Linked DNA regions of Homo sapiens. The protein of the gene in region 3 interacts with the protein of the main gene of each other region in a pairwise test. Each region holds a gene or a part of one and is shown on either strand. Other genes may lie near its edges. The genes, in order: SYNGAP1, SRPK2, HCN1 and ARID3B.

Region 1 (8,897 bases), on a different chromosome or scaffold from region 3:
TGGCTTGCTTGGTTCTTGGAAGTAATATAACCTTACACATATTACCAAGAACTAAGATCCATGAACTCACTCATAAGTCACAGGTACACAGAGGCCACATACACATATGCTTATTAAACACTTTTGTTGCCGCAGGAAAAGAATAGCAGAAACACAGAGGAAAGGGGGGGCAGAGTGACAGAAACACAGAACATCCTGTTATTAATGCTGCATGCAGTGACATGTACAGAGAAAACAACACACACCCGTGTACACACACACACAGCAAACCTGAAAAGCACAAACTGTGATCCTGGGTCTCCATGTCCCATGCCTGCACGATGTATACACGCATGCACACACATAACAGCCACCTACACAAACCCGTAACACAGGCATTGTGCACACACCCACACATGTACACACCCTGTGTACACACACAATGGCACTCACACACACACAGCAAGGGCTTGGACTCCTGCCCCTCCAACATCTCTAATCTTGCCATCACCCACAGAATCTCCCCCTGCCCTCCAAATCCCTAACCTTCCCTTTGGCCTTTCTTCCTCTCCACACCCAGCTGGCAGCTCTCAAGGGGAGCCAGAGGAGGGAGGTTGCCAGAGAAGGGCGAAGAACAGGGTTGGACACAGAGCAGAGAAATGGGAGACAGAGCTCTGTGCTGGGGATATGAACCTCTAATGACAGTCCCTGCTATGACAGGCCTCACTGTGAGCCAGCCCGTATGCCTGAGTGGCCTTCCCTGATCCAAAACCAAGCCTGATCCTGCAAGGCCTACAAGAATCCAGTGCCTTCTCCCATCTTCTTCCCTTTCTTCTTTCAGAGATCACTTTACCAGAAGGCCTGACTCTCTCCTCCCCACTGCCTCCCCAGCTCCCAGACCCCTTCTTCTCCCACCATCTCTATCCAGTTCCCCATCTTAAGCTCTTATCCCCTGTTCTCTCTTCTAAGTCTGGCTTGGCTTTCTCCCACATTCCCATTCTCCAGCTATTCTTTCTCCCTGGCCTGCTGCTCTCTGCTCTCTTCTTCAAGCCTCTCTCATTCCTTCTCTCCTATCCCCTCCCCACTTTTCCTCTTTACCCCATTTCTTCCCTTTTTAAGCTTTTCTGTCCCCACTTACTGACCAAGCAGGGCTTACACCTGCCCAGCCCAAAGGTGTTTCATACACAGTAGAATTCCAAGGAACACATTCACACACTTACTCCCCCCAGCCACACCACCCACATCCAGACACGCCCTGGACACCCATGCTGGGATTGACACAGATACTCAGGCCAGTGCTGGAACACACATGCAAAGACACACACCTGCCACCAGGGACACAGAAAATCCTGCTCATAGGGCCACACATTCCCACACACAGAAGCCTGACAGGAGGTGAGCCCCAGCCAGGGATATGCATGCTCAGGGTCAGAGGTGACATGGACCAGCAAGGCCGCGGACTGCCCCACAAGCCCGTGGCTGGCCCAACAGCCCCCTAGGCAGGAAACAGGCAGAGGCAAGATAAGACAGGACACACTTGCACAAGGATGGCTGCACATGTGTGCACGAGGAACTGGGCCCCCGTGTGCACATGGCACCGACACACAGGAGACACGAGCATGGGCACGAACACACACGCGGACACACGGGCTGCCCCTTCCACCAGGGGCTCCAAGATCCCACACACACCGGCCGCCCCCGCGTGCTCAAGACCCTGTCCGCACGAGGCCGGTCCCCGACCCTCCCGTCCTCCGCTGTCCCCCTCCGGTTACCATAACTCCCCCCACTCGGAAGATGCAGCGAGAACATGCGGAGGGAGCAGCTGCCGCCGCCGCCGCCGCCACCGCGGCTTCCCCACCCCCCTCCCCGCGCCCACGCACACGCGCGCCCCCGCCCCACGCGCGCGGCGCCCCCCCCTCTACGCGCGCTCCTAGTCCGCCCGGCCCCGCCCTTACCTCGCACCGCCCCCCGGGGGGGCCAGGGGTGTCCCCGGTGGGGGAGGGGCCCCGCCCCTGCGCGGGGGAAGGGCGGGGTGCGGAGGGAGAGGGGGCGGTACGGCCCGGCTCGCGCCGCCCGGCGCGGTGGGGGCGGCGGCGGGGCCCGGGACGGCCGGGACGGCCGCGCGGTGACGGCCGCGGGAACGGCTCCCTCCGCCGCCGCTCCCGCCGCTGCCGCCGTTGCCCGGGCCCCGCCGCCGTTGCTAGGCGACCGCTGCTGCCGTGGCCGCCTCTGTCACGAGCCCTGTCGCCCGGAGACAGCGCGAGAGAGACGGGGGAGGGGGGCAAGGGGACCCCCAAAACAAACCAGGCCACCCACCATCCCCTCCTGAGCAGGACCCCCCCACACACACAAAACCGCGGAGAGAACGAGGGTTCGCGGCTCCACCCAGCAGAGGAGGAGCCCAGGATTCCAATGCCCCTCAAAGGTCCGGCGACCTCTCCCGGGCTGGAGAGTCCACAGCCTCAGCAAACACCTTGGCATTGCCAAGTCCCCAAGGTCCCAACGACCCCTATGTCCACTGCACATCCTCCATGCCCTTTACACATTCCATGTCTGCCTGAAGACCCTAAACGTTCACCCCCATCAACTTTCACTAAGCCCTCCCCCCAAATACATATGCCCCTGGAACCCCTCCCAGCCCCTACTGAACCCCAATACAGCAACCTCCACATGCCACCTCAACTCCAAACACACACGGTGTCCCCACCCAAAACACACGGGAGACCCCCGCCAGAGACCCCTAGACCCTGAGGACTCAGGATAAGGAGAAAGATGGGGAATAAGTGGGCAGATCTGCCAACCACAGGACACATGATAAACATGCTCTGTGAGCATGTGACCATTCTGGCCTGGAAACGCAGGTGTACACACATGCACACAAACACACACATCTTCCCCAGACATGAACATGACATACACACATATACATATACACACAGATGTGACAGACATCACACACATTCTCTGTATACACTCCACCACCACCTGACTTTGCCTCACAGAGATGTGCTACCCACACACCCCGATGGTATGGGGTTTCCATGACAATGACACACATCCCTGACCACCCACCCACCCACCCAAGGTCCCCAAACCGGCCCACAAGGCTAGTAGGGCCTGGACCTATCAGAAGGCTGGAAGGAGCCAAAGGATGGGGACAGGTCACTGGCTCTCTAAGGGAGAGAAACTGGTAGCTTGAATTCCTGAAGGGAGGGGGAGCTGGTGGGAAAAAGGGGTCACCTGGGGGTTGGAGGAATGGGGAACCTGGATCGCTAGGTCCGGGAAGGGAAATGAAGTGGAAGGGGGCAGTGACGAGGGGGTTTCCGGGGGCTGAGGGCGTCTCTCTGCACCTTGGCTGCAGATCTCTGTTCTCTGCCTTCATCTCCCCTCACTGTTCCCATGGAAACCTTTTAAGCGAACTTCTCAGGAAGACAAAAATCTTTTTTTAAATGACTAAAGAGGGGGTTGGGGGGGCAGAAAGGGGGAGGGAGGGGAAGAGACAGATGGAGAGAGGGAGAGAGTTGGAGAGACAGACCGCGCAGATAGCTCTACAGACAGAAAGGAGATGAGATGGGAGTCTGATGGACTTTCGCCGGGAGCAGAGGGGAGGGACGGGGTAATCAAGAGGGGTACAGAAAATAAGAGAAATCAGGGAGGAAAGAGAAAGGGTGATACAATTGCAGAAAATAGAAGCAGCTGATGAGAGGAGAAAACAGGGGGTAATAAAAGGAGACCTCAAGGACTGAAGGTCCGGAAGAAGAATCAGGAGCATAGGGGTGGGGAAGAGGTCTGGGGGGAGGGCAGGAACTAGGTCATTCTTTCCAAGATCCCAGACCAGGGGCTGGGAGGGGCAGGGGCAGGAACACACGGACTGGAAGCTAAAGATCTAAGGAGACTATTTTTACAAGCACCAGGAAAATAGTCAAACTTCACTGCTGGAGAGGAGAAAGGGAGCGAAGCCGAGCGAGGACCCACAGGGGCCTCTCACCCACAGCCCCTGTCCCGCTCCACCTTCCAGAGGAGGGCGCCATCTCCCCTCGGGAAGCAAGACTTTGTCTCCGCCTTCTCCCGCCCCCGGCCAGCTCCCGCCGCTCCCCGACGCCCCCGCCCCGCCAGCCCGGTCCATCTTCAGCCCTCTCCCCGCGCCTGTCCGGGTCATGAGAGCCTGCTCGGCCGCCGTACCATGCTCGCCGTGGGGCCGCCCCTCCACCGGCACGGAGACTGTGCGTCTCAGCAGTTTGTTGCGACTGGACTCGCTCCTCCGGTCCCGGATCAGTAGGGGGTGTATCTAGGGGAGGTGGGGGTGTGTCAGACCTCCCTGGCCCACGCCGCCCCTCCCCTCCCTCTTCCCCCCTCCGCCTCCTCCCAGGAAGGGCGGGCCTCCTTTTCCCCCTAAGCCTGCCCACTTTTTCTGCCCCGGCCCCTCCACACTTGGTGACTGGATCTCTCCCTTCTCTCCCCCAGTCTCTCTCTCTCATTCTTTGCCGTCCCACCCTCTTTTCTCCCTCCATTTGTCTTGAAACACCTTCCGGAGAATTCTCCCAAACCCTACTCAGCTCTTCTGCAACTCCTCAGAAGTTAGCTACTTCCTGAATCCAGTTTTCCCTTGACCTTCAGTTCCTCCATTCTCCCTGCTTTCCTCCCAACCTCCCACCTCCCTTACCCCCTTCTCTCCCTCCGAGCCTGTCACGGGGGTAGCAGAAGCTGCATTTATAATCAGGATCCACAGCTTGTCTCCCTCCCACGGCCCGGCTTGCGGCCAGACTGGGACCCAACCTCCCCTCCCGCCAGAGGGCCTGGTCACCTTCCCCCACCTTTCATCTCCTTCCATCACCCGACCCAGCATCTCTCAGTTCCCTTCTTCCCCTCAGCCATCACCTTTCCCTAAGCTTCACACCCAGCTCCCCCTGTCCACCTCCATCCCTACCTCCATACACCTCCACCCCTGCAGTCTCCTCCACCTCTACAAAGAGCCACAGGAACAGACCCCTCACTATCCCCCAGCCCCAGTTCCACCACCCATCCAATTCCAACTCCCTGCGTCTGTTCAGGCTGCTCATTTTCCCAATTCTATCTACTCCTCCTCCCACACACACGCCCTTCCTGCTCCAGACCGGCCATTCCTATTGCCCCTCAACTTGCTGGCCACTGGTCCCTTCAGTCTGTCCCTATCTCTGTCATTCCTTCATTACCCCAATCCATTGTCTTCCCTCTTCATCCCTATAACAGTCCCCACTCTGGGTTCCAGTTTCCCCCATTTCTCCTACAGACTCCAAACCTTGATCTAGGGGTTTGACCACAGTCACTCAAATGTCTCCCAATGGTGTCCAAAACTTAGACTCCCCAAGCCACCTCTCCTTTCAAAGTCACCATATCCTCTCCTTAACACCTCTACTTTACTCTGTGGCCTGGAAGCTGTCTACCCAGCCATCTCTCCACACTCTCACCTGCCCCCATAGGTCCCTTGACACTCTAGTTAGCCCTGACTCAAATTCTAACCCTTCCTCATCACACCATTCCCAATAACTTTCAGGGTCCATCTCTCACCACGTTTGGTTTTCCAGGCTACCCTACCATTTTTTAAAGCTTGTCCCCCAAATCACCCCCATTCCCTGACTCACACTTGTGGGGCACCATTCCAGTTTTTATCCTCTATTTCCTCCAATGGACACTCCTGCTGACCCAGCTCCCAAATCAGAACCCACACTTCCCTGGCTCTCAGATCTCCATACCTGGCCACCACCTCCCATAAGAGGCCTCTGTCCGTTTCATCTCCTTTACTCTGGCTAGTCCCTGCCCCTACTCCACTTGTACTCCTTTAGATAACTCCACATACTCCCAGTTCCCCTCCCTTATATTCCTTCCTGATGTCCAACCACTCCCTTGCAGAAGCCCTCTCAGTGTCTCTCTAAACCTTGATCTCAATCACTCTCCCAGTCTTCACCCCATCATGCCAAGATCCACTGACCTCAGTCTTCTTTCCCAGTATCCTCCAGCTACCTAAAACCTCCTCTATCCCCTGCCTTTTCTCTGCGTCCTGCAATTTCTCTTCTTGCACTCTGCCCCCTGATGGAGAAAGGACTGGGAGTCTTGCTCAGTGGGCAAAGCAGAGAGGGGTCCTGAGGATTGCTTTGGTTGGGAGGGCCTTCCATGTCTTCACCCCTTCTCCAAACCCTTCAGTTCCCCTTCCCCATTCTAACCTATCCTACAATATGGACAGTGTGAAAACAGGAGCCTCCCCACCCCCGAAATCTTCAGAACCACATCTCCTCCCCAACACAGCTCATAACCCTCAAAGACTCCCTGCCCAAGATGAGAGAATGACTACCCCTCTTGTCACACTCCAACCCAAGTCTCAATGGCCACCCTCCTGCCATTTGCAAATGTTTCTTCTTTGTCTGCCTTCTTTGTGTCTCTCTCCCCTTCACTAATGAGGACTCTCCCCATTCTCCCACATGCGTTTTCCCAGCCTTCTCACCACACTCACCTCATCCTCATCCAGCATGAGCAGCTGGTTCCCCGAGATGATGCAGAACCGAGGGTTCCAACCAGGACGATCATACGGGGAATGAACGTATTGGGTTCGGTGCATAGAGGGTCCCCGTACATCTGGAGGACAGAGACACACAGAAACAGTAAGGGAGGCTCTATGCATTTGGAAGCAGAGGCCTAAAATGGCAAGAAGAGAGTCCACAAAGTGAGAAGGGGACCCTACCGGCCTTCAGGAGATCACAGTTGAAAGTGAGACACCTGGCAACTCTAAAGGAACACAAGACAAGCATTTATACAAAGGGGAAAAGAGGAGAGGATCACATCACAGAAGGCTCTGGAGACTTGGGGGAAGAAATGCAGAGGTTCAGGGATGGGAATTATATGACAGAGAAGGTACACGTTTGGGGGCAGAGAAAGATGAAGGAGCTCTCCATCTACTTCAGGAAAATAAGGTAGAGGTGCCGCAAAATTGGCAGGAGAAAAACAGAGAAGTTGGTGTCAGATATCTGGGTAGAGGAAGGCATCCAAATAGCTGCAGAAGACAAGGACTTGGAAGGTGGCACCACCCCTCTATAAAAGAGTATGAGGAAAGCTACATGGCTGTGGGAAAGAAGGATGGGGTGTGTGTGTAGGAACATTGGGATCATGAGATTCTGAGGGCTAAATATCTAGAAAAGAAGAAGTCGGGGAGCTTACCTGTTCACAGTCAGAGACATGAGAGGGCCTCCCCTCCCAACTCTTCCCTCCTCTGTGCCCTCCTCCCCTAGTTCAACCCTGCTCATCCTTTAGGGAAAGTTCTGGTTCTTCTGGTGGTAAGGAGAAGATGGCTTTTGTCGGCATCTGGCTGTGGAGGCCCCAGGGCAGAAGGTGGGAAATATGCCCTTGTTTGGACAAGTAGAGACCAAATTTATCTCTTCTCCCATTCAGTGCCCAGAGATTCAACACTGCCCCCACCACCTCACCCCACCTAGTCTCAGTGGACAGGATGGAAGCCACTCCATAGGTCAGGAGCCTTCTCAAGGCACAGTGAGGAGCTTGAGGAAGAAAGATGTCAGGGGGAAAGAATGGAATATCCAGGCCTGGTGACACAGAGGGGCCTCCAAAGACAAGAGCTGGAGATGGGAACAAAACTTTGAGAAGAGAGAACAGTAGACCAAGTGTCGCCTATGGCTGAGATGAGACCAGGGTCCTCCTTCCCCAGCTCTGTTGTTCTTGCCATGCCGCTCTCCCTGCAAACTGCCTCTCCTTTAAACCCCAATGCCACACAGGCCCTATTGAAGTAAGAGAGATGTCACATTGGCGACAGCAAAGAGCTAGAAATTAGGCTTAAGGTATCAGATTTTAGATGGAAAAAAGATCAAACTCTGTCACCTTTATGGGATAACCATGAGTATACTGCAGGAGAACTGGTCTTTGAGCTTCATTCCAACAGAATGCACTGAGTAGCAGAGTTTTGCAAATTCAGCCCTTTTCTGTCTATAAATATGTCTCTCAAATTTACCCAACCTCCAGATCACAGTGAGCGATGAACCCTCAGAATGTCCACCATTTAGAAACCACATACTTTGAAACTCTATCTCAACCCATCTCAGAGACTAACTAATGTTCTCTAGATACAGAGATCACCAATACCTAGCCTCTGAAACTACAGACATTGCAGGCAACATGCCCACCGCACTTAGACACTTGGTATACCCAGAGGAGAAATCTGTTGATACACATAAGCATTTGGGGAAAGGGCTGGTTCAGGCTGCAGCCAAGGGAGGCGGGTTAGACTTCAGAGGGCATCTTTCTCCTGGCAGCAGGGAACTTAGGAACAACTCTAGAAACACACACACACATACTGTCTGGACTTGGTGAAGAATGATTCTGGGAGGCAGATGCAAGAGGCAGAGCAACATGGCTGAGAAACGGGAAATTTTTACTAGGATGAGAAATCCCTCAAGGGCTGAGATGGGGATCCCTTGTTCTAATCATCAAAACCTGTGTCTTTGTACCCCAAATCTCCAACACCCCAATAAGTAGAGGAGACAAGAAAAGAGAAATGATAATAAGAGTTGAGGTATTAAGGGAAAGTGGGTAGGCACAGACTTGTGGTGACAAGGAATGGTCTGGGAGACAAATAATAGGAGTAGATAGAAAAGGAGGCAGAAATGATGGTAAATGCCCAGGGGCAAGGGAATACACCTGAAGGGCTCGACTGGACATGTGTCAGAGCAAAGGAGGCAGACCTAATGCGGAGGCTATGAGAAGGGGTCAAGACGGACTAGTAAAGAAGTGATAGAGATATAAGGGAGCGACCACATAGAAAAGAGATAAGAGAGAGGCAATGAACACCAGAGAGGGGACTGATATAGGGGAAGGACAGAAGGGGGACTCATATAAGGAACGGACACCATATGGGGGGAAAGATATAGGTGATGGAC
Region 2 (5,945 bases), on a different chromosome or scaffold from region 3:
ATGTGAAATAAAAATATTCTTCTTAAAAGGTTTGTCCTTCTAAGCATTTTAAATTCTTCACTGGCTTGAAATGTGCCTACTACAGAAATATGCATACAGAAGCTTTTGTGTGAACTGCAGAATCTTATACATTTTGATTCCTTGATGAAGTATATACTCTAAAATACAGTCTTCTACCAAAATTTCATTCAAGTTATTTAAAAGGGGGAGAAAAAAGGAGAATTTAGGAAATAACCTGAACTATGGATAGAAACTGAAGAAGTTCTCTACTCCAATGGAAAGTTTCCTTACTTTATCGTGGTAACTAGTTATGTATGGTCCAGGTATGGGAAGAAGCAAGTTAGTAAATCGGTTTTCACCTAAGAAGTTTATGACTCGGAAGATCTTATATCCACCTTTTCTCTGCCTTTGGGCAGTTCTGTCTGCCAACTTCTAGATAGCCAGCTCCTGTATCTGCTATAAACACATATGTGATCCACTGCTTGTCATTTTCCATGAAGATTTCACATGGACTACAGAAAGGAAAAGATAGATAGGACATTCAATTGAAGTCAGAGAGCTAGTTATAATGTTTAGCATAACCAGTGGTTCTCATTTAGTTTTTGTGCATTCTTTATCAACAAGCCGCCAAGAATCTGATAAAGCCATATTATGCCTAATACAAATGTATATTCCTTCTAGAACAACCGTTTCTGTATTATAAACTAGTTAGGCTGTTTTATCATAAGGGACACACCTGTAAAAATTCATAATCTAGTTTATTTTCCAACATAAGCAAAAACTGCATTAGACAAATTTCATTCAAGTATACTATCACCCTGATAAAAATCCTTTTACACTTAGGGAAGATATAAATTATGCCCTATGGTTCTTGTAAGGATGTTTCTCATAGAAATCACGGATAGCATCACCAGTCTACAGCCACTATCTATCACAGAATTTACATGGAAACCTACAGCCTCATTAGAAAAACTTAGCATGCAAATTTCATAAAGAAATTAATGAATGATCCATTCTACCTCACAGTGGTAATGTGATATAATGGTAATTCCTAAGAGGATTATGTGTCTTGTTTCCTAACAGCAAATGCTGTTTTGTTTTAAATTTGCAATGATCAAACAAATGCAGTTAGTATGTTTTTGATGAACCATGGATGAAAAGGGATCATTGATATTCTAGAGAATCAATCTATACTGTAGCTTTTCTCCTAAATCCCTTCTGCCCTTAAAAAACAATAAATGATTTCCTTATAATACGCCTCAATGCATGTTCTACAACTACATCTGCTGCAACAGGAATGCTGGTATTTAGTTTTAGTGACACTACTCTGATAGCAAATGTTCATTGATTCTATCATTTATAGGGCAATGACCAAGGCAATGTCTGGAAAAAAAAAAACCAAAACACTTTAATTTTTAAGACAACTGCAAGCACCTCAAACAATGGATTATTGTTACAACACTTGTTAGCTTTTCACAATCTAGTTATTGCAAAGGCATATGGATAAATGTTAATGGACAAAGTCAAAAACGAGGCACCTTAATGAATGTAAAATTTAAAATAAAAAGACATTCAATCCACTGACTTCTAAAAGAGGCTAAATATACCTCTATATATTACATTCTAAAATTGTATTGCCTACTATGGTTTGTATCCTGGAGTCTACAATTAATTTTAAGGAAATGCATAAACAAAACTGTGTGCAACCTGCAAAGGGAAAATCATTTTCTCAACTTCGTTTCATGGAAAGACAATGAAAAAGCTAGTAAAATTTGTTGTAGCCACACGTAAAGCTACCTATGGAATGAATGTGATCACTGTTATCTTTGAGCTGTGAGAAGTATTCTGCCCACTGCACTGCAAATTGTATATACCATACCTTGTGTTCTAGACAAGCATGATCATGCTTTTCCAAAAATATATGTATTTTTTCATTCCACACAATTAACACGTTTCTCCAATTTAATCTATGTAGAGCTTAACTTACAGCGCCCAGAGGAGGCAACATGACATGGTACTGAGCCATCACATTTTTAAAGGGAAATTGCTCTTCTTTAAAAGTACTTTTAAAAATATGCAAAATCACAAATGGGACTGCTAAATTATAATGCATATTTTAGAATGAGAAACATATCTTTTCTTCCTTTAAAGTGCCATATAGAGAATGACATCTTATAACCCAGAGCCACTTTGTTTAAAATCCAATGTGAAAAGACTGTTATGGAATGAAAAGTTTGCACAACTCCTTGGAGCAGTTAAAGTCCGCTACATGCAACATAGGCTACAAAGCACTCAAGACTTGGTAGCTTTTCTGAAATTTGAGTCCCCCTCCCATATTTAATGGAAAGTAACATTTACAGGGTGCATTTACATACACTATAATACAGGAATGATGTCCCTTTGCCAGAAGATAAAATTGTACATTTCCTTGCTATTTCTTGGTTCCAACTTGATAATTTCTTAAGATTGTAAATTATATAGTACTCAGCTAAAATATTTCTTCATAAATAGTTACAAAACCTGCCAAAACACAAAGGGGAAAGTATTTTTCATTCAAAAAAATGACATTTGAATGTCACACAACACAAGAAACAATGCTTAGAGACATGTTATTGTTTCCAGAAGAAAATGGTCAGTAAACTACTTAGCTGAAGACAAAAGACTACCCTTCCCCAGGATCACAGTGCACAAAAAGCAAAATGTCAAACAACAGTACCTCAAAGCAAAATAAAGGTCTGAGGATGAAGCCAGCTCACTTGTAATCCTGTTAAAGAATGAGAGTCACCGTTTAGGTCCAATGTACTGGGAACATTTGCTAGCTCAGAATGCAATATTGGTAGAATTTGCTAAGAATTCAACCAAGGATGCCGAAGGCATTCGCCAGCTGAGGCTCGTTTTTCTGGAACCATTTCTAACATCGGGATCAGGAAATCTGTAAACTGTGCAGCATCTTCATGGGGCCAGCCATACTTTTCCACAAGTACATCAAAGAGGCTCCAGGGCTTCAGCTTGGTGATGTGTCGCAGTTCTCCTACAGGGGAAAAAACAGGCCAATGTCAAGAAAGCTCCAAATCTGCATTCCCCATTGTTGGTCCAGTCAGGTTCTTTTCAGTGAAGCGGACAACCACCTGCTCAACACTTGTACAGCAACAACAAAGAACACCAGCTTTTCCCCACTAAGCAATAATCATTACATGTACATATGACCAAGGCATATTTCAAGTAAGCCTGGTGGATCTAAATAGAGGTTAATTAATAGTTCATTCACATTAGTTCTAAGCTTCTTTAAGTAAGTGGAGTGGGCTCAGTTTGCCCAGAGTGTTTTCTTTTCCAAAGGTTGAAGCAAGCCACTCTCATTTCAACCTGGGATCTTCCGTAAAATTTGCAAACTTGAGGCCAACCCAAATCAAACACCATTCATGTCTACGCATTTGTTGTAAGATCTAAGATCCTAGGACATTAATTTGTAAACCTTGAAGTTATACTTCACAAACTGTGCTAGCTGCAGTATGAAAAGTGTCGGTTACAGGCAGCTTTGGTTGACATAACAGAATGACTAACAAGCTAGTAAATGGCCTACGAGCTGTAATGGTCATTTCATAAGAGAAAAAAAAGGTTATTTTTAAGTCAAAACTGCAATAAAGGGCTGAGGGCAGTGGCTCACTCCTGCAATCCTAGCCGTTTGGGAGGCTGAGGCAGGAGGATCCCTTGAGCCCATGAGTTTCAGACCAGCCTGGGTAACATAGACCAGACCCTGTCTCTACTTAAAAAGAAAAAAAGTAGCTGGGCACGGTGGTACATCCCAGCTACTCAGGAGGCTGAGGCAGGAGCATTGCTTGAGTCCAGGAGGTCAAGGCTGCAGTGAGTCAAGGTCATGCCACTGCACTCCATCCTGGGACAGAGCAAGCGAAACCCTGTCTCCCCATAACCTTTTCAAAAAGGCAATAAACTGTCAAAAGCTCCAGATAATTTCACTGTGAATAACTCGTTTTCTCTGCCTGTTTGAAGTTTTCATAGGACATCCCACCCCTGCCCACAGACCTCCTTAGGTGCCCCTCAGTGCATCCTGAGCAGCTTCTGCAGAGGAAACACCCCCCTGTGCCCACACCTCAGAGCAGCCAGGTCTCGGTGGGGGGAGAGAGGCATTCAAGCACCTGCAGGGCACACTTCATGCAAGGACTGACTTCTCTCCCCTTTCAACTGCTTTAATTTAAACAAGGTACATTTTTTTCATGAGATGCATCAATAGATAATCAGTGCTCTGCTCACAAAGGTGTTCTCAGGAGGCTTGTTCTGTTTCACCCATTTATTCGAGTCAACTTGGAAAAGCCCTCCCGTTTAAAAACACAATGAAAAGGAAAGAGCATTACAGAAAAGTATAAGAACAAAAGGGGAAGTAGCCTACAATCCTACCCACAACTGCTCTTCTTTTGTGTCTATTGTGAAGAGTGTTCTTACACACTAGTATGTCTACAAAGTTGCAATCATGCTGTGCACAGGGTTCCGTATAAAGAATCTTTTAAGAGGGCTGCTTGCTAAAGGGGCTGAGATGTAAAATAAGCTTCTGTTTCCAATATGAGGACTGGAGCTAGAGTAAAGCATCGCATCCAGACTAGACATCAGGTCTGTGTTGATGAAGAAATGAACCTGTAATATTAGAGGCGGGAAAGGATCTCCTGTTGAAGGAAACACAGTCTCCATAAAAACAAAGTCTGAACAGAGACTGCAGGTTTATCCCTCTAAGCCTGAAATTCCGGCTCTAGGAATCCAGCCCAAGGAGATAAACCCTGGTTGCACCACCCCAAATTCATGCCTAATATATGCTGGCACAAAATTATATGTACTCGCAAAATTACGAAGAGCCAGTAATAGTAAAATGGTGGTTAAAAGAAAACCAAGGTAGATTCACTTAATAGTATTTAATATTACTTAACAACATGGGAGAAGATCATGGTACAACATTAGGCAGTAAAAGAACAGTCAAACTATGTCCTACAGATAATCACAAGATTATTAAAATGCTCATTAAGATGGAAATCAACTGAATCAAAACATCAGCTTTTGTTAGTAGGTTATTTCAATTTCCACATTTTCTGTAATATGACTATATTGATTTAGACTGTTGATCTCACCACAGCAACAGTTAAAGCAAACTAAGAAAGCTCACATGTGACTAAACCAAGTTCTCTGGGAAAGGGAGCGAACTTTTATGACATGAATCTATTCTATCTCAGAAAAAATACTCTCCAGGTTTGCAAATATAGGTAACTACAGAGAAGCACTGTGTGCTGAGAATAGTAAAGGAACCTATTTCTGAGGCGCCAGGTGTTAAACTAAGATCCATCAACAAGGCATCTTTTAAGTACAATCTTCCATGAAAAGAGAAGTTTTACCACTATAAATGCTTAACAGCTGCATAGTAACAGTGAGCAAAACAATATAATAGTGAAAGGCCATGAGAAACTATTCATCCATAACTAGGCATACTATAAACTGGTAAAAATATTCGCAAGGAGCAGTAAAATATCTAACTACTTTTAACAAGGTAAAGACTGTGCAAAGAAGCAGTCTATAAACAACAGTATATGCAGGAGAGTCCTAAACACCTATGGTCCTGAGCACAGAGCAGCACTGCAATATAACAAAACACTGAACCGCCTCTAAAAAAAAAAAAAATGTGTGGACTTTTTTTGTGGAAAAAGTTTATAATATAATGCAAAGGAAAATCAACTCACCCAGATGCTATAATGATTATGTGTGCAAACCCTTAAGCTCAGTATAAGAAGTAACCTTGCCCTGGAAATAGTTGATAAGGTTACTTAAACACAAAGCCCAAGCCCCCAACTCTGTATCTATTGCTAGGAGACACAACAAGAGTGGGCTCACTGAATGAGTGAGGGTCTCGAGTCCATGAGCCAGCTCCAGCCCTGCAGATGATGCCCAAG
Region 3 (8,897 bases):
ACAGTTGTTCTCCCTTTAAAAACTAATCAAATAGGCCAGGCACGGTGGCTCACGCCTGTAAACCCAGCACTTTGGTAGGCCAAGGTGGGTGGATTGCTTGAGGTCAGGAGCTCAAGACCAGCCTGACCAACATGGTAAAACCCCATCTCTACTGAAAATACAAAAACTAGCTAGGTGTGGTTGGTGCATGCCTGTAATTCCAGTTACTCTGGAAGCTGAGGAAAGAGAATTGCTTGAACCCAGGAGGCGGAGGTTGCAGTGAGCCGTGATCATGCCACTGCACTCCACCCTGTGTAACAAAGCAAGACTCTGTCTCAAAAAACAAATAAACAAAAAACTAATCAAGTAACTTTCTATATTCATTTTTTCAGTCTCTGCTCATGTTCCTCAAACAACCTAGGTAGTGTAAATTTTAATAAGGTGCATTGTCTTTTTAATAAAATAAGGCTAAAACATTCTGCAAGGGTATAAGTGACAACTGCTCTAGAAATGATATCACAAAGATTTCTTTTAATTCTGTCAAATTTATAGATTTCTCAAATTCTTTTACGTTCCTAACTAGAAATAATTATATTTCTAAATAACAATTTTTAGACTGTTAAACATGACAATAAAAAAGAAAAGGAAAGATTTATCAGGTTATAACTCATCTTATTTGCCTCATATGTAATACTTAACTGATTTGAAATAACATCCCAAATGGTTTAACTATGCCATTTTCTGATGAAAAGAAAGATGAACAGAAAGTAGCACATGCAACCCAATGAATGCCATTATAATTTTCCCTAAAAGCTATTTCCAAATGTTCAATACGGTAGCATTCTATACCAACTAAAGAGATTAAACTGGAAAATTTTGCAGAAACAGGATATATTAAAAGTTTTCCGTCCGGAAGCAGTGTCTCATGCCTGTAACGTCAGCACTTTAGGAGGCCGAGCCGGGCGGATCACCCAAGGTCAGGAATTTGAGATCAGCCTGACCAACATGGAGAAACCCATCTCTAACAAAAATACAAAATTAGCTGGGCGTGGTGGCACATGCCTGTAATCCCAGCTACTTGGGAGGCTGAGGCAGGAGAATCGCTTAAACACAGGAGGCAGAGGTTGCGGTGAGCCAACATCGTGCCATTGCACTCCAGCCTGGGCAAAAAGAACGAAACTCCATCTCAAAAAAAAAAAAAAGTTTTCCAGTGCTAACTGCCTCATGACTAGACCAATTTCACACAGCATATATAAAATATGGCATTGCACATCAGGGCTTCTGCTGCCAGGGATTGCATGAAGGTAAAAAGGAAATAGCAGCACACCATTTACATGGCCATTCCTTCATATATTTTTTTCTTCAGAAATTATGGAAACGGTTAGAGTATGTACTTAGAGAATATTTAATTTTTCAAACAACTAACATGCCTTAATTCTGTTTTAATTTTACACTCATACAAATAACTAACTCTTAAATAGCATTAAATGCAGAGCATAACTTCTAAGCACTACATATATAGAAATGTTTATATAGCATATACAGTATATATACACACTATATATACTATATACCCCATGAATTTTACATATATATATATTTTTTTCTATTATAATTGAGAAAATTAAGGTCCAGTTACTAAGGTGGTGAAGCTCAGATTCTGACCCAAACAGTTCCTAATATTGTTACCTCAAAATAATATATGCCCAGTCTTTTTTTTTTTTAAGCAAAACAGCATCAAGGATTATAAGGAGAACATATAAGCCTCTCCCTTTTCCTTTTACCCTACATATCACTTTCCAAATTCAACCACCATAATTGTTTCTTTTAGTGTTTAGTTCATATTTCAAAGACAAATTAATTTATCAATTTTAAATACTATTCATTAGCTGCCAACTGTGGAACACAAGGACTTAGCTTTCTGACATCACCCAAACCACATTTACGTTTCTCCTGCCCTCCCACCAACCTAGAATAATTGCACCACAATCTTTATTTAAAACAGTCAACTTGTTTACATTATTATGACCAAATAACCATTAGGTACTGTTGAACCAAGCAAGGAACTGTGATTCTTTTCCCTTTTTTAGACACCTTTAGATCATTCTGGAGTTAATAAAGTTCTTTTGTTTATTTACTTGTCTCCAATGTACTCTACAAAATATGAAAGTCATCAATATATTGTTCCAAATGATCTCTGGAACACCTAGTAACATTATTTATCAAATGCTGATATCCATCTATTTGTTTTTCCTACCCTGAAGGCCTTCCTCCAGAACGCTTTGCTTTACCGCCCCAGTCTGGACTGGTTTCTTTCAAGGCTAGCTATTTTGGAGTACTCCTGGGACTTCAGGTTTCTCTGTGTTAGAGCCCATTTCCTAGCTTCTATGTCTTCATGTTGTTTGGTGTAATTTCTTGTTTTGCAGGAACATGTCATCTAATAACTTTCTAAGAAAGGGTACATGGGTAGTTAATACTAGAGTTCTTAATTTCTGAATATCTTTATTTAAATTTTGTATTATGGCAAGGTATGGATTTCTTATGGAGATTACTTTCTCTCAGAATTTTGCAGACTTTGTTACATCGTCATTTACCTTAAAGTATTATTCCCACTTCTTGATATGTAACTTTTTCTTTGAAAAGTCTTAGTCATTTGTTTGTTTGTTGCTTATTCAATGGTGTTGTAAAGCTTCTGTGTAATGATCCTTGGACAGTCTTTTTCTTTCATGATGCTAAGTATTCCATAAGTTCCTCAGAACAGACATTTCAGTTGCTGCTATCTGGAAAATTTTATCAAAAATGTCTCTATTAATTCCATATGTCCATTTTCACTTTTTTATCATTCTAGAATACCTTATGGTAGATTTTGACCTTATAAATTAGTTATTGGTTTTGCTATATTTTCTTATATTTCCTATTCCCTTTTGTCTTTTTGTTCTAATTCTAACGGGCTTCCTAGACTTTATCTGCTAACACATTTCATCCAAGAGCTGTTTTTTAAATTTCTTACTATTTTTTTCATAGCAACGTGTTCTTATTGTGCAGATAAAATATTTATGAAGATATCATTTGTGGAGTATTTTTTATAATACTGTCATTTCTCCTTATGCCATCCCTCTGGACCTTCTTTGGCTGTTTGATTTAGTCTTTCTCTGCTTGATTTAGTCTTCCCTCATGAGACTTTTCTCAAATGTCTGGTTATCTTTTGCTTTCAGTTCCATATTAACCAATGCCATACCAAAAATATAATCACAGCCTCAATGTACACATGCGGGAATTTTTGCAGAGTGATTAGGCAATAAACATGATTTTTTATCTGAAGACTTTGAAATGTCTCCCTTTGGAGGTATTTTCTCCAGTTTCCCGACTGAGAAAAATTGGCCTGGCTCCAAGCATCCTAATGTGAGCACAGGGAGTTCTGTATTCACTAAGGAAACCCTTATTTAATTCTGTTTTCAGTCTGGCTTTCCTGGAACTATTTCATAACTGGCATTTCCAAGTCCTGAATTCTTCTGGATTTCAATGGGTGAAGGATTGTGGAAGTGGAATAATTTGTCCATTAACTTCCTATTTTACAAATGTTCTTGAGATCTATATTCTCTGATGTCTCCTCTTTCTTCTACTTACCAATGTGTCTGTGCTTTTTCATATTATTTTGGAGTGACTTCAAGAGGGAGGAAGTATAAATGATTAGGTTCAATCCATCACGTTTCCCAGAAGGTTTGGAGAATTATTTATACTGGCAGCCTTGTTTCTTATTATGTAAAAGAGTTGAAGTGACAAAATTAATATTCACAAGAACTGAATTCCTGGCCCAGTTCTTACTATCTATCTATGTCACCATGTTCACGCTACATAACTTCTCTGCAGTTTCATTTATTCATCTGTGTATTGGGCAGGGAAATGTAATAGTTGGGGCACATACTTGCAGGTGCCAGTGGGAAGGAGATGCCAGGTATTACTGTAGGAAAAAATAAGAGCTTTCATTGCTTTCATCTGAATTTATTAACTCTAAGATTAAATGTTCTCATGACCTGCTTGGAGAATAATTCTTTGTCCATTCAGTCAATAAATATTTATTACAGGTCTGTTATGATGACCTAGAAATTTCACTCCAAAGAGAAATGAAAACATCTCTGTGCAAAAACTTGTACGAGAATATTCATATCAGCAGTATTTACAATAACCAAAAAGCAGAAACAACTCAGATGTCCATCAACTGATAAATGAATAAATTAAAGGTAGTATATCCATAAAATGGAATGTTATTCAGCAAGGAAATGAATAAAGTACTGACACAGGTAACAGCATGAATGAACCTTGAAAAAACATTATGCTAAGTGAAAGAAGCCAATAAAAAATACTATATATTGCATGACTTCACTGATATAAAATATTCAGAATAAGCAAAAATCTACAGAGACAGAGAGAGGATTAGTGGTTGCTTAAGGCTGAGCGGGAGGGCGGGAGAGGAGAGAAAGTGAGTGCTAATGCATATGGGGTTTCTCCTTAGGATGACAAAATATTCTAAAATTGATTGTGGTGATGGCTGCATAACTGTGAACTTACTAGAAAATATTGAATTGCTTACTTTAAATGGGTGAATTGTATGGTATATGAATTTTGTCTCAAAAAAGCTGTTAAAAATAAACCATATCTGTATGTAATAATTAGGTGATGGGATGATCTGTGCAGCAAACTACCATGGCACATGTTTACCTATTTAACAAACCTGCACATCCCACACATTTACCCCTGAAGTTAAAATAAAAGTTGAAGAAAAAAAAATGAAGCCTCTAAGAAAGTTTGGCAAGAAAAGTCTATTATGTGCATTTTTACAACATTGGGAATGTAAAACTGAGTAAGATTCATAAGGTAGCATGGTTTAAATTCCAGGGAAAGGACACATATAAAAATAATTATAAATTCTGCTGAACAGAAAGCCTAGATAGAAAAATAAGTGTGTGCACAATGATTAAATGGAAATCTAAAAGATGAGTAGAAACTAGTTATGTGGAGTGATAAAAAGTGAAAAGAGTATTTCAAGCTTGGGGGTAATGTCACATTAAAATCTTAGTTGCAGGAGAGAACTCAGGTTGTTCTAGGAGCTAAAAATTTACCCAAGTGGCTGGAACACAGAGCTGGAATGAGTGGCATGTAATGAGGCTGCATATATCGGCTGAAATTATGCAGGGTCTTGAAGCTCATAGAAAGTTTGTCCAATGTAGTCTAACAGTAATGGGAAGTTACTAAAGGTTTTAAAGAGCATAACAATATTATTAGATTTGCTTTTTAAAGATCACTCTTGTCACTCTATGTTGAATGAAATGGAGGACAGGTTACATTTTCTGTCCTAAAACAGCCTGTAAATATCATAACAGGAATGTCAACCTTGGAGAACCTACGTTATTCGTGTCATTTTAAGAAATCTGTAAACTGGAGGCAGTATTAATTGGTCAAATCAATATGTATAGAATCTCTAGAATGTTCATAGGCAGTCATTCCATTCCCTGAACTTTAGCCAAAACAATGAAGAGTAAGGTGCGAAGATGTTTGTTGCAGCACTTTTTAAAAAATACTGAATAACTGTATACAACAAAGCTGATAGTCTAAAATTTATAAATATTTACTAACTTTGTATGTATGTAAAATTAGCCTTATGTTTTTAGAGTTACAGCTAGTGACCTGAAAATAAAATTAGGTTTATATAAATAAAATTATAAGTTGTAAATTTAAAGCATGAGTAATGTTGCTTCCTTGCTTTAACTGCGTGGTCAACTATTAGACAAAATAGAAAAATACTATGAGAAAACTAACTAACATAACTTGAAAGAGTCATGAAATCAATCTTATCAAAGTTGGGTGAAATGTGTCAGATAAACACTCAACTCAAAAATAATCAACTTCTATATATATTCTTTACTTCTATATATATTCTTCTACAAAGTCCCTTGAATAGTTTCTGTAGCACATATATACAAATAGAATTAACAGAGCCATGAAGGTTTATTTTGCAAAAACATAAAATTCCAGGATGCACCAGGAATCCTGATTTTTTTTTCCTGTAAAACTAATGGTAAGTTGTACATCCAGATGCCTTCACAAAGAAAATTATTTTTAGAAGAAAAGTACTTAGAGAAAATATAATTTTCATAGTGCATGCAGACTTTTTTCTTTATTATCACTATTTCTACAACTAAAATATATAGTGTCAGCCTAATTCATAGTTTGTTACTCCTTTACACAAAATGATAAAATGAAAATTTGTCACAGACCCTGCAAATGCTCAGTACTCTTCATGTAGTGCTAATGATCTGCAATAATTTGCACTGTACTTACAAGAGACTCTATTTGAAAGTTCTTTTCCGGAGCCCAATTGTTGTTTCTAAATAATGAAGTGAATTATCTGCTAAACACAAGAATTATATTCAGAATGATAAGATTATCACCTGAAAATCATACTAAATGCATTCTGCTGGTTTCCTGCTCACTATAGGACATAGGTGCATTGAGTATAATAATGCAGAATTACAAATACTATTTATCTTGCTTTGTGGTGGTGATGTTGTTTTGGTTTGTGGTTTTTGATCAAGCAGATATAGTTGAATATAATTTTCTTAAATGAACCTATGATACAAATAATAAGTAATATATCTTTCCAGTGCATTTAAATTTCTTTCATTATTCAACAGGCACGTTCATAAACCCAAGTCCACATAATTAAATATGATTAGTAAAGTGTACCTCTTTACTGATTCTCAATTTATAATCATACCCCGAAGGAGGTTTAAAGGGAAAGTTGCTCAGAAAAAAATGAAAACTATCTTATAATATTTTAATAGTATAAATCATAATATCTACTAAATGCAACAGTGAAACATTTGCTAAAATTTAAAGTTGCATAACTTACATGTATACTAAGAAAAAGTAACTAAATAAATTCACACGTTTAAATCTTTGAAGAAATTTCATGTTGTGTCTAACAGTTGCTAGAGCCACTAAGAAAAATGTAATTGAACTTAAAGCACAAAAAGGTTCACCTAACATAGAAAAAAAATAAATTCTTATGGTTAATTTTGGCTATGTTGATATGAAAAGCAAATAAAATAAGCATTGCTGGCAGATACAGAGTGTGTTCAGCACAAAGATAACATAACAGTAGGCTAATTCGTCTTTAAACCCTAGAAGGTTGAATTGTTTTCTTGTGAGAAGCTCCTGGAAGCAAATGTTCTCTCTATTATGAACTGTATAATATGGGTGAAGCCTCCCTTCCCTAATGAACACATCAGTGATCTCTGATATCAGTACAGTTGTGGCTGCAATTCAAAGCAGAGATGGAAGAACGGATGTGACGGTATCTTCAGGAAGTAACTCCCATCTCTAGAGTCCTTGAGTACTTACAACAAAATAAGCTTTTCACACACTCATACTAATGATGAAAAGAAATTGAAAAAAATAAGAAGTCAAGATACAAAACTGCCTCCGTTATGAGGAGCAAGATGTTGGCTGGCAATACATATGGAAAGGAGCATTCTTTTTAAAAGTCCCTTTGTGTAAGCATGATGGAACAAAATAATGACAGAATCCCTAAAATGGCAAATAGTCTGGTGATAAATTCTTCCAAGATAAATTGCTTGCATAATAAAAATCATCCACAAAAGTATTCTAAATATTCTTTCAACCTATTTAAATGATTATATCATAACTATCAATTGGCTATGGAAGCACAATGCTTGCCAAGCATCACTTTTAAACCTTAGTAAAATTCTAGCTAATTAATATAAAATCACCATGAATTTTTAAAAATCATATTTAACCTCCAAATTAAATGTGTCTATGTGTTGTTCACATGAAATTCAATAAGACTAAGACCATACTGTCACTACAGAAAAATCGAGCTACATTTGTTTTTAAGTAACTATCCCTATTTTCCCTAGTTTGGGTGCTTATATACCACAGCATAAACAAAAACATGAGCTTGTTGTGTTTACTAAATTCTGTAGCTTCCACCCAGTTATTTCAAACAGTACCTATACTATTGGACTGCTTTTTACTCTCTGAAGGTTTCTATTGTCATCCTCTGCTGAGGAAAAAGGTAAATACAGCAACTCTGCCCTACTTACGCCAGGGGTAGAGAAAACTACCTGCCAGACACAGCAATAGCACTCTTGGGCTCTGGTGGGGAAAAGAGGCACTAGCTAGCTCTCTGAAAGTCTCAGTGGGAGCACAGCCTTGTCCCTTGAGGTAAGTAAAGTAGAAAGCTATCAGTCTTAAAAATTATCGTGAGCAGGGAAACTAGAAACAGTGTTAAAGTCACGACATGCCCTGGAGTAAGAACATAGTAAACTTCTCTGGCCATGTAAAGGTTTATTAAAAGTGTCAAGGAAAAGAATCCTCTGGATATCTTCATTTGTAATAACTCCCCACTCTTCATAGAAATTACTCTTAAGTGTCATTCACTCAGTTGTTAAATGATTAATGAACTTAAGTTTGACATTTTAGGAATTGTAGTAAAGCACCTCCCTGAAATAATCCTTCAGGAAAGGGCCTAAAGTAAAGGCTAGATCATGACCGCAAAAATTTCTAGTATCTGTTGAAAATTACTCACACATTCCTTTCCCTGTAGAAAAAAACTACCGCTAGAATTTTGTCTTTCCTATTTTTGTTCTTTCATTACATTATCTTGACGTTATAGATTTTAGAAAATCTTATATTGGTTTTGAGATCATACAAAAAAATGAAACAATAAGATGTAAATATATTCTGAATGTAAACAAGTACATGATTATTTTTGCAGTTTGTTTTAGAACACCAGTGTATATTGTAATTATGTTTTAAAATCTATTTTTTCAGATATCTTTCAGTTTAAAAAGATCTAAATAATGATAATTGCTTAATTTGTGCCTGCCATTTTCTTT
Region 4 (7,309 bases), on a different chromosome or scaffold from region 3:
GCCATCGGACAGTGCCCACCAGGGACTCTCTGTCTTGCCAAGGAAGGCCTTAGGCACTGGGCTTTAGACATTTCAAAGTGAGTTCTCATTCACTTGTGTCTCCGATCACACTAGAGTCCCCATTTCACAGACAAACTGCCCAGAGTTTGTCATAGGTCACACAGCAAACCAGCAACTAAGCCCCCTGGTCCCCTAATCTGCCCCAGAAAGGTAGTTTCTCAGCTGTTCTGAGCTTGACAGCATGAACATCCTCAGGAGCCACAGGCAAAGTGGGCTGAGGCTTGGCATTCCCCTCGAGGTCATCTGGCCATTCTGAACGCCCCTCCTCAGCCTGCTTCCTCCGGCTGAGCCATGTGCCCCCGGAACCCCTCTGAACTCTGTTGCCGATCCCTCCCTCCATCTGCGCCTTCAGTGAAGCAGTTTCTTAAAGGAGGGGTCCTTGGTACCGTGGAGGGACAGGACATCTCTGGGAATTCGTACCCAGCTGCGTTCGTGCTGAGTTCTTCATGACCCACTCCTTCCAGCGTCAGCTGGTGGATCCAGGGCTGGGTACTGAGCCGTACTGGACCAGTGGGCCCCCTCCCGGGATCGCTGGACTTGGAGCAGAAGAGTCCCTCCAGGGCTGAAGATTGGACACAGAAAACTTGGGAACTGTCAACTGCCCTGTTATTCACCTCGTGAAAAAAGCTGGATTTCTAATGAGAGCGAATGGAGGTGACAATTCCCAGAAACTGGAATTGGGATGGTGAGATTTTAGTTCAGCCGCCGGCGGTCTCATGCGTGGAGGTGATAAAGTTGAGCTTTGAGGTGGTCTTCAGAGGGAGAGGAATACCCTCTGCGGGCAGAGCTTCCTGGGTTCCGGGCCCTTCCGGACGTCAACACAGGTCCAAATGCCCTTGGGCTCCTCCGCACACCCTGGGTGCAAGAATAAATCCTTCTCTCTGCCGCCATTAGCCTGACTGGCTTCGGTTACTTCGCACAAAAAGCCCTTGCCGAGCAAACGTCCCCGGTGCTGCTCCAAAGGAGACCCCTGCCCTCCTGGAAGCTCCTCCCTGAGGCCGGGTATCCACTCGCCGCTCGCAGCCCTCGCTCTAGCTCCAGCTCCTGTTCCTTTTCCTGCCCACCCCGCCCAGTGAGGAGATCAGCACCCCTTGTCTGTCTCTGTGTCTGTCGGGGTTCGTGCCTCACTGTGTCCAAGCCCGGCTTCTATCCCTAGTCCCTTCCTGTTCGCGCCACTCCTGCTTGCTTTCTTCTCCCCTTCCCTCCAGCGGTGGTTCCAAACCTTCTCTTCCATAAGACCCTCCATTCCGTTTCCCAGAGACCCAGGGGTGCCCCTCGCAGGGGCAGAGGCGCAGCCTGTAGTGGATCTCCCTCCGCGCAGGGCGGGCAGTCTAAGGTCATTCCCGGTCACCCTGCCCCCTCGCTCCCATTGGCTCTGGGGAGGGCACGTGACTCAATCCTGGCCAATGGCGTGGCGGGGCCTGTGGCTTGCTGCCGGGCAGGCTTTTCTAGGAGCTTCTGGGGTAACGCCAGAGAAACCTGCTAACACACAAGGTTAGCTGAGAGTGAGCTCAGTGAGCTTTCCCTTTGAAGAAGGCGTGGGTGAAGGGGAGAAGGTTCAGGAGAAATCAAGGGGTCAGGAGTAGTTCACTCAGTCCCCTTTCACTCTGAAGGAGCTCACCTCTCCCCAGTACTGTCCAGTGGAAAGGCCACTCAAAGCAACTGAGAGAGACCTGCTTGTGTGAAGAGGTAGAGGTTTATTGAAATATAAACATTCGAGAACATGTAAGATAGAAAATAACCACAACATATAGACACTTGCTGCAGGAGGACATCTGAGGTATTTACTCACTGCCTAGGCTACCCATGTGCTATCACATTTTTCCTGGTTAGAATACATATAAGATGGAGAGCAGGAGGGGACAGAGCTGCCCTGGCTGATGGCACCTTCAGGGGAAGCTCTGCTTGGGCCAAGGCCCCACTCGTGGGGGCACCTGCTGGCACCCCTCATCGGGCTCTGGGTGACACCCTGCTGTTGTCCTTGAGGGCAGTGAGGGTTCACTCCAACGGTGTGGCCAGGCGAGCTGCCTGGGGAAAGGGAGAGGATCCAATGACCGGAAAGACACAGTGTGCTTTCCCTGCATCCTCTGGGTGGGAAGAGTCCATCCTTTGTGACCAAACCCCTGAGAAAGACATACTGGCCAAATGTCTGAGACACCTTCAAATGGGCCCAGTGCCAGCCAACTGGGCTCCTCACTGGCACCACGTCCCAGATGCCCTTCTCTGCCCACACCCTGCAGGCTGAGGCCAGAGGAGGTCAGCCCTCGGGAGATGGGGTATGTGTGTGTGTGTGTGTATGTGTGTGGGAGTGGGGGTGAGTGTGTGTGGAGGGCTGAGAGAAGACGCAGTTGAGCAGAGCTGCAGCTTACCGGGCTGAGGTATCTGTTTGTGCTCAAGCTTTTGATTCCCTTTCCTCTCCTACACAGGACTGAATGCGAGCCACGCTGCCACACACACCCACGCCACGCGCGGTGTCTCCCACTGCCACAGCCCCATGTCACAGTGGTGGTGTTCTGCTGAACATTCCAGGGCTTCCTCGACTGAGGTGAGCCGCAAGCGAATCAATTTTCTTTACAGCACAGGAGCTGCCTGCTCCCGCGCAGGGTCCAGGAGGAGCTGTGGAGTTATTCATCTCCTCATACCCTGGGGCGGCTCAACCTCTGGCAAGGCCAGCGAGGACCCCAGCCTGCCTGTGCCCTGAGCTGGGAATGCTGAGTGATGGGGAGGTGTCCTCTGCCTCCCTGGTCAGCTGGGGGTGGGGGTGTGGCAGAAAACGGTCTTCAGAACTGGTACAGTTTCAGGGCCCGACCCGGTGTGAGAGCGGGCCTCTCCACTCCACCTCCCCGCCCCCGCGATCCCTGAGTCGTCTCCCCTGCATGCCTCCACCCACCTCCTCACTGGGCTTGAGGGAAGGGCCAGAGGGGCCGGGTTACCCAATCACTTGCTTGGCTTTGGGGGTGATCTGTTTTCATTTCTTTGGTGCTACGATAAAAATTTTAAAATAAAAAAAAAACAAAAGTCAGCAAAACACATATAAAAAAGATTTCAGAGATGCAAATACTTCCTGAAGACTCAAACATCAACAATTACAAATCTGAGGTATTTCAATGAACCTGACATCGGCACGTGTGGGGATGGTGAGGCCAAGATGGCCCCATAAGAAATAGAAGAGGGCTGAGCTGAAGAAGGCTGAAGAAGGCTGGGGAGGACTGGGGAGGGCTGAAGAGGGCTGGGGAAAGGATGAGTGGGCTGTTTTTGGGAAAGCAGGCCAATAAGGGCAAGTGGGGAGCATGAGGTTTGGCGGGGGCGGTCAGAGAATGGTCCGTGTGAAGCAGGTGCCAGGGCTGGGCAGCCCCGAGGCTCTGCCTTCCCATCAGCAGATGCCCTGTGGGCCCTGGCCCTGAACTGCCCTCACAGCCTCTTCCTTCAGACTATTAGAAGGGGGATCTGGGGCCCTGAGGACTGATTCAAGACTTGTGTTTGAGGGACCCGTACCCCAGGAACCTAACAGTAGGCAAAGTGGGCTGGAAGGGCCCCATCCCATGCTCTGCAGAGAAGGGCATGAAGGCATGCTCTTGGCTCCTGGCAGCCCCACATGGGACTTAAAAACAGGGGAAGAGACTAGTGGCCCTGGGGTCATGGCAGAAGGCAGGGTCAGGGAAATAAATTAAAAGGGGAGGGAAATGGAGGGCCTCCAGCCCTGCGTCGGCTGACAGATTGTCGATACACTGTGCCCTGAGCTGGGAGGTGGCTGGGGAACCCTGGAGGAAGCTGGACACCCACAGACCCCCACCCAGTTCTCCAGGACAATCCCTGATTGGACAACGCTGTCTGTCCTGCCCCTCTAGCCTCTCCCTGCCCCCAGAGTACAGCAGGACCTGAATGGAGCCTGGACAGACGGACACGTCCAAACTCTCAATGTCTGGCCAAATGGTGCTCGTCGACGTGGGCTCTGTGAGATGAGGTAAATTCTGTGCATCAACTTCCTTCACTCTCGACAGGAGAGTGGCAAGTGGGAAGCTGGGTCCTGCCCATCAGAGGGACCAGCTGGTGGAGGGCTCTGCGCTGGGGGTGCCCCGGGATGAGGTAGGACTTGGTGAACAGTGAGAGCTGCTGCTGCTGCTGGCGCTGCTGCCGAGGCTCTGGGGAGCAGACCCCGTGATGAGGTGGACCACAGGCTTCTGGGCAAACAGCACACCTTGGTGGGTGGAAGAGAAGCAAGTGTGGGCAGAGGAAGAGCGAAGGGGAGGGCCAGCTCCTTTCAGTAAGTATTCACCGCTGGCCTAGCCTGTGCCTGACTCCGCTGTAGACACTGTGCTAGGGGGTGATGGGAGAAGATCCAAATGCTGTCCTGCCTTGAAGTGCTGATGGGCTGGGGAGGGGGACAGATAGGTCGACAGAGTAATTTTGCTAAAATGTCATAAATGCTCTGAGACAAGGTGTACCCAGGGTACACAAAGAGGAACACCAAGGCCAGGTGTGGTGGCTCACAACTATAATCCCAGCACTTTGGGAGGGTGAGGCAGGAGAATAGCTCAAGGCCAGGAGTTTGAGACCAGACTGGGCAATACAGCAAGAGCCTTGTCTCTATAAAAATTTTTTTTAAAATTAGCTGGGCATGGGTAGTCCCAGCTACTCAGGGGGCTGAGGCAGGAGGATCACTTGAGCCCAGGAGGTTGAAGCTGCAGTGAGCTATGACCGCACCAATGCACTCCAGCCTGGGTGACAGAGCCAGGTGGGGTGGGTGACTGGCTCCCTTCTTGTCAGGGGTTTGAGGAGCCTTCAACTTCTGACCCTTCCTCATTCTGAGAGGGAAGGAGTTACCTTCTCCTTTCTCCTTGACAGAGGACAAAAGGATATCAAGATCCAGGCCTTGAATTCCTACTTCCCTGCTTTCTCCATGGACCTAATTCCAACCCCCAACCCTCCCAAACCACAGCACAATGAAGAGGCAAAGGGCACCAGGCCCCACCTCCTCCAGGGGCCTCCTGTGACAGGTAGAGACCTCTGAGCAGAGTCTGCAGACATAGCATGACTGGTGAGCCCACTTGGCACCACTGCTCCTCTACACTCTGTCCTCTCTCTGAAGTGAGTGGCCCAGCAGAGATCCAGAGCATGCTCCCAGGAGGCCTGCAGGGCGGTGCTCTGAGGGAGTGTGGCCCTTAGAATGGGAGTAGGCCCTGAGGAAACACTCCCAGTTGTGATAGAAGGTGCAGTTGTAGGGCTTTCGCCTGTCTCCACGAGACACCTTGCCAGGCTGGCTGACACTCCGCATGCCCTTGGGCCCTTGGTAAAACAGGTGGGTGATGCCCTGGGCCAGGCCTGGTGGCCCCCACTCATAATACTGTGCTTTTTTTTTTTGAGACGGAGTCTCACTCTGTCGCCCAGGCTGGAGTGCAGTGGCGCGATCTCAGCTCACTGCAAGCTCTGCCTCCCAGGTTCACGCCATTCTCCTGCCTCAGCCTCCCGAGTAGCTGGGACTACAGGCACCCGCCCCCACGCCTGGCTAACTTTTTGTATTTTTAGTAGAGACGGGGTTTCACTGTGTTAGCCAGGATGGTCTCGATATCCTGACTTCGTGATCCACCCGCCTTGGCCTCCCAAAATGCTGGGATTACAGGCGTGAGCCACCGCGCCCAGCAATGCTGTGCTTAACAAGAGTCAGGTGGGCTTGTTCCCAAGCTCGTCCGTAAACCAATGAAATGGGAATGGGAAAAGGACTGCTGTTTTTATGAATATTAAGTTTTGTTTTTTTTTTTTTTAATTGAGACAAGGTCTTGCTTTGTCACTCAGGCTGGAATGCAGTGGTACAATCACGGCTTACTGCAGCCTCGACCTCCTGGGCTCAAGTGATCCTCCTGGCCTCAGCCTCCCAAGTAGCTGGGACCACAGGTGTGCACCACCATGCCTGGCTATTTTTTTTTGTATTTTGTAGATTTGGGATTTTGCTATGTTGCTCAGGCTGGTCTCAAACTCCTGGGCTCAAGTGGTCCTCTTGCCTCAGCCTCCCAAAGTGCAAGGATTACAGGCATCAGCCACCGTGCCCAGTCATGAATACTAAGTTAAACCCTTAGAAAGACTCTGTAAAGGTGCGAAATCAACCAACCAACAAAACACTGTTGCCAAATTAGGTTTAGGAAAAGATAACTGTAAAAGACTGGGGGGCAGGGAGCTTAACAATGTAAGCTGATTCTCCTATACTGGGGTTCCTTTGCCTGTGTCTCAGTCTGCAAAAGGAAGAGAAGAGCTGAATTACAGTCAGAGAAAGGCTGTGCATGAGAAGACCTGGGGATTGTGGGACACTGACTGACTTCTTCAATTAACGAGCCAACCACTGGTCTAAAAGGGTTAGGTGAAGGGTTTCTGCCAAAGTGGGAGGGACCTATCATCCTGTTAACAATCCACAGTCTACTAGTCCAGAGGACCACTTGACCTTTGCAACTCTGAGACCAGGAAAAAGGAAGCCACTGTGGGAGGTGTTCAGACAGAGGGTAAGAGGCAGGGCCAGCCGCAGAGCTGCCCTGTGGCTAGCTGCGGCCACGTGGGCCTCCCCCAGAGCTCCAGGGCCTCACCTGCATAGGTGGTGCCATCGATGTCCACAGACATGTTAATGCTCCCAATGCTACTCGTGGTCAGGTTCAGTGCTGCAGCCGAGGCCTCTGCTCTGTCTTCTGCTGGGGACAGGGAGACAGTGGGCCTGGTCAAGCCTTCCACAGCACTCCTGTTGTCCTCTCTGATGCTGCCTGGCCACCCCTGGTCAAAGCCTCACGCTGTTAAAAGGCATCTATGTAACCTTCTCCTGAGTGTAGGGTATGGCAGGAGATCCCAGGCTCGCCAATCTCCTGTTGCTGGCTTTTTCCACTGACCCAGTTCATCCCCTCAACTACCTCTGCTCCCAGAGAAAAGGAATCACAGTAGGCAAGGAGGCCGGCTCCGGCCCCACCACTCTGCACTGGCACTTTCCAAGTGACGGGCAAACCCTGAACTACACTATACACCAGGCCCAGGAAATCAGAGATCAATGAGACCCAGCCCCAACTTTGAGGACCCACCTGCCCTTTCTTTCCTTTGACTCTGAGTCCCTCAGAGAGAGGAGTCTACGCCCTCAGCCCCTCCCCTCCATGACCACCCAGGCAGCTGGCGTTTGTGGAAGCCTGCAAGTGCTGGCACACACGGCCTTTGGCTGGCTCACCCCAGACTCAGAATTCTTCCCGGTGAGCTGTCTTTTCTAACAGCCCTTTGCTTTGTG

The links.
Region 1: the proteins of HCN1 (region 3) and SYNGAP1 interact in binary tests that used the Homo sapiens proteins (3 or more experiments, as listed by UniProt).
Region 2: the proteins of HCN1 (region 3) and SRPK2 interact in binary tests that used the Homo sapiens proteins (3 or more experiments, as listed by UniProt).
Region 4: the proteins of HCN1 (region 3) and ARID3B interact in binary tests that used the Homo sapiens proteins (3 or more experiments, as listed by UniProt).

What each region holds. Positions count from the first base shown.
Region 1 is NC_000006.12:33,421,168-33,430,064, reverse strand, and holds part of SYNGAP1 (ras/Rap GTPase-activating protein SynGAP), read right to left. Parts: exon of another isoform or gene 7,168-8,897; intron 6,589-7,167; coding exon 6,467-6,588; intron 4,268-6,466; coding exon 4,162-4,267; intron 1-4,161. UniProt on the Homo sapiens protein: Major constituent of the PSD essential for postsynaptic signaling. Inhibitory regulator of the Ras-cAMP pathway.
Region 2 is NC_000007.14:105,114,992-105,120,936, forward strand, and holds the end of SRPK2 (SRSF protein kinase 2), read right to left. Parts: intron 3,032-5,945; coding exon 2,847-3,031; 3' UTR 1,383-2,846; downstream 1-1,382. UniProt on the Homo sapiens protein: Serine/arginine-rich protein-specific kinase which specifically phosphorylates its substrates at serine residues located in regions rich in arginine/serine dipeptides, known as RS domains and is involved in the phosphorylation of SR splicing factors and the regulation of splicing.
Region 3 is NC_000005.10:45,684,546-45,693,442, forward strand, and holds part of HCN1 (potassium/sodium hyperpolarization-activated cyclic nucleotide-gated channel 1), read right to left. Parts: intron 1-8,897. UniProt on the Homo sapiens protein: Hyperpolarization-activated ion channel that are permeable to sodium and potassium ions. Displays lower selectivity for K(+) over Na(+) ions.
Region 4 is NC_000015.10:74,592,560-74,599,868, reverse strand, and holds the end of ARID3B (AT-rich interactive domain-containing protein 3B), read right to left. Parts: intron 6,735-7,309; coding exon of another isoform or gene 6,732-6,734; coding exon 6,633-6,731; intron 4,259-6,632; coding exon 4,095-4,258; 3' UTR 1,738-4,094; downstream 1-1,737. UniProt on the Homo sapiens protein: Transcription factor which may be involved in neuroblastoma growth and malignant transformation. Favors nuclear targeting of ARID3A.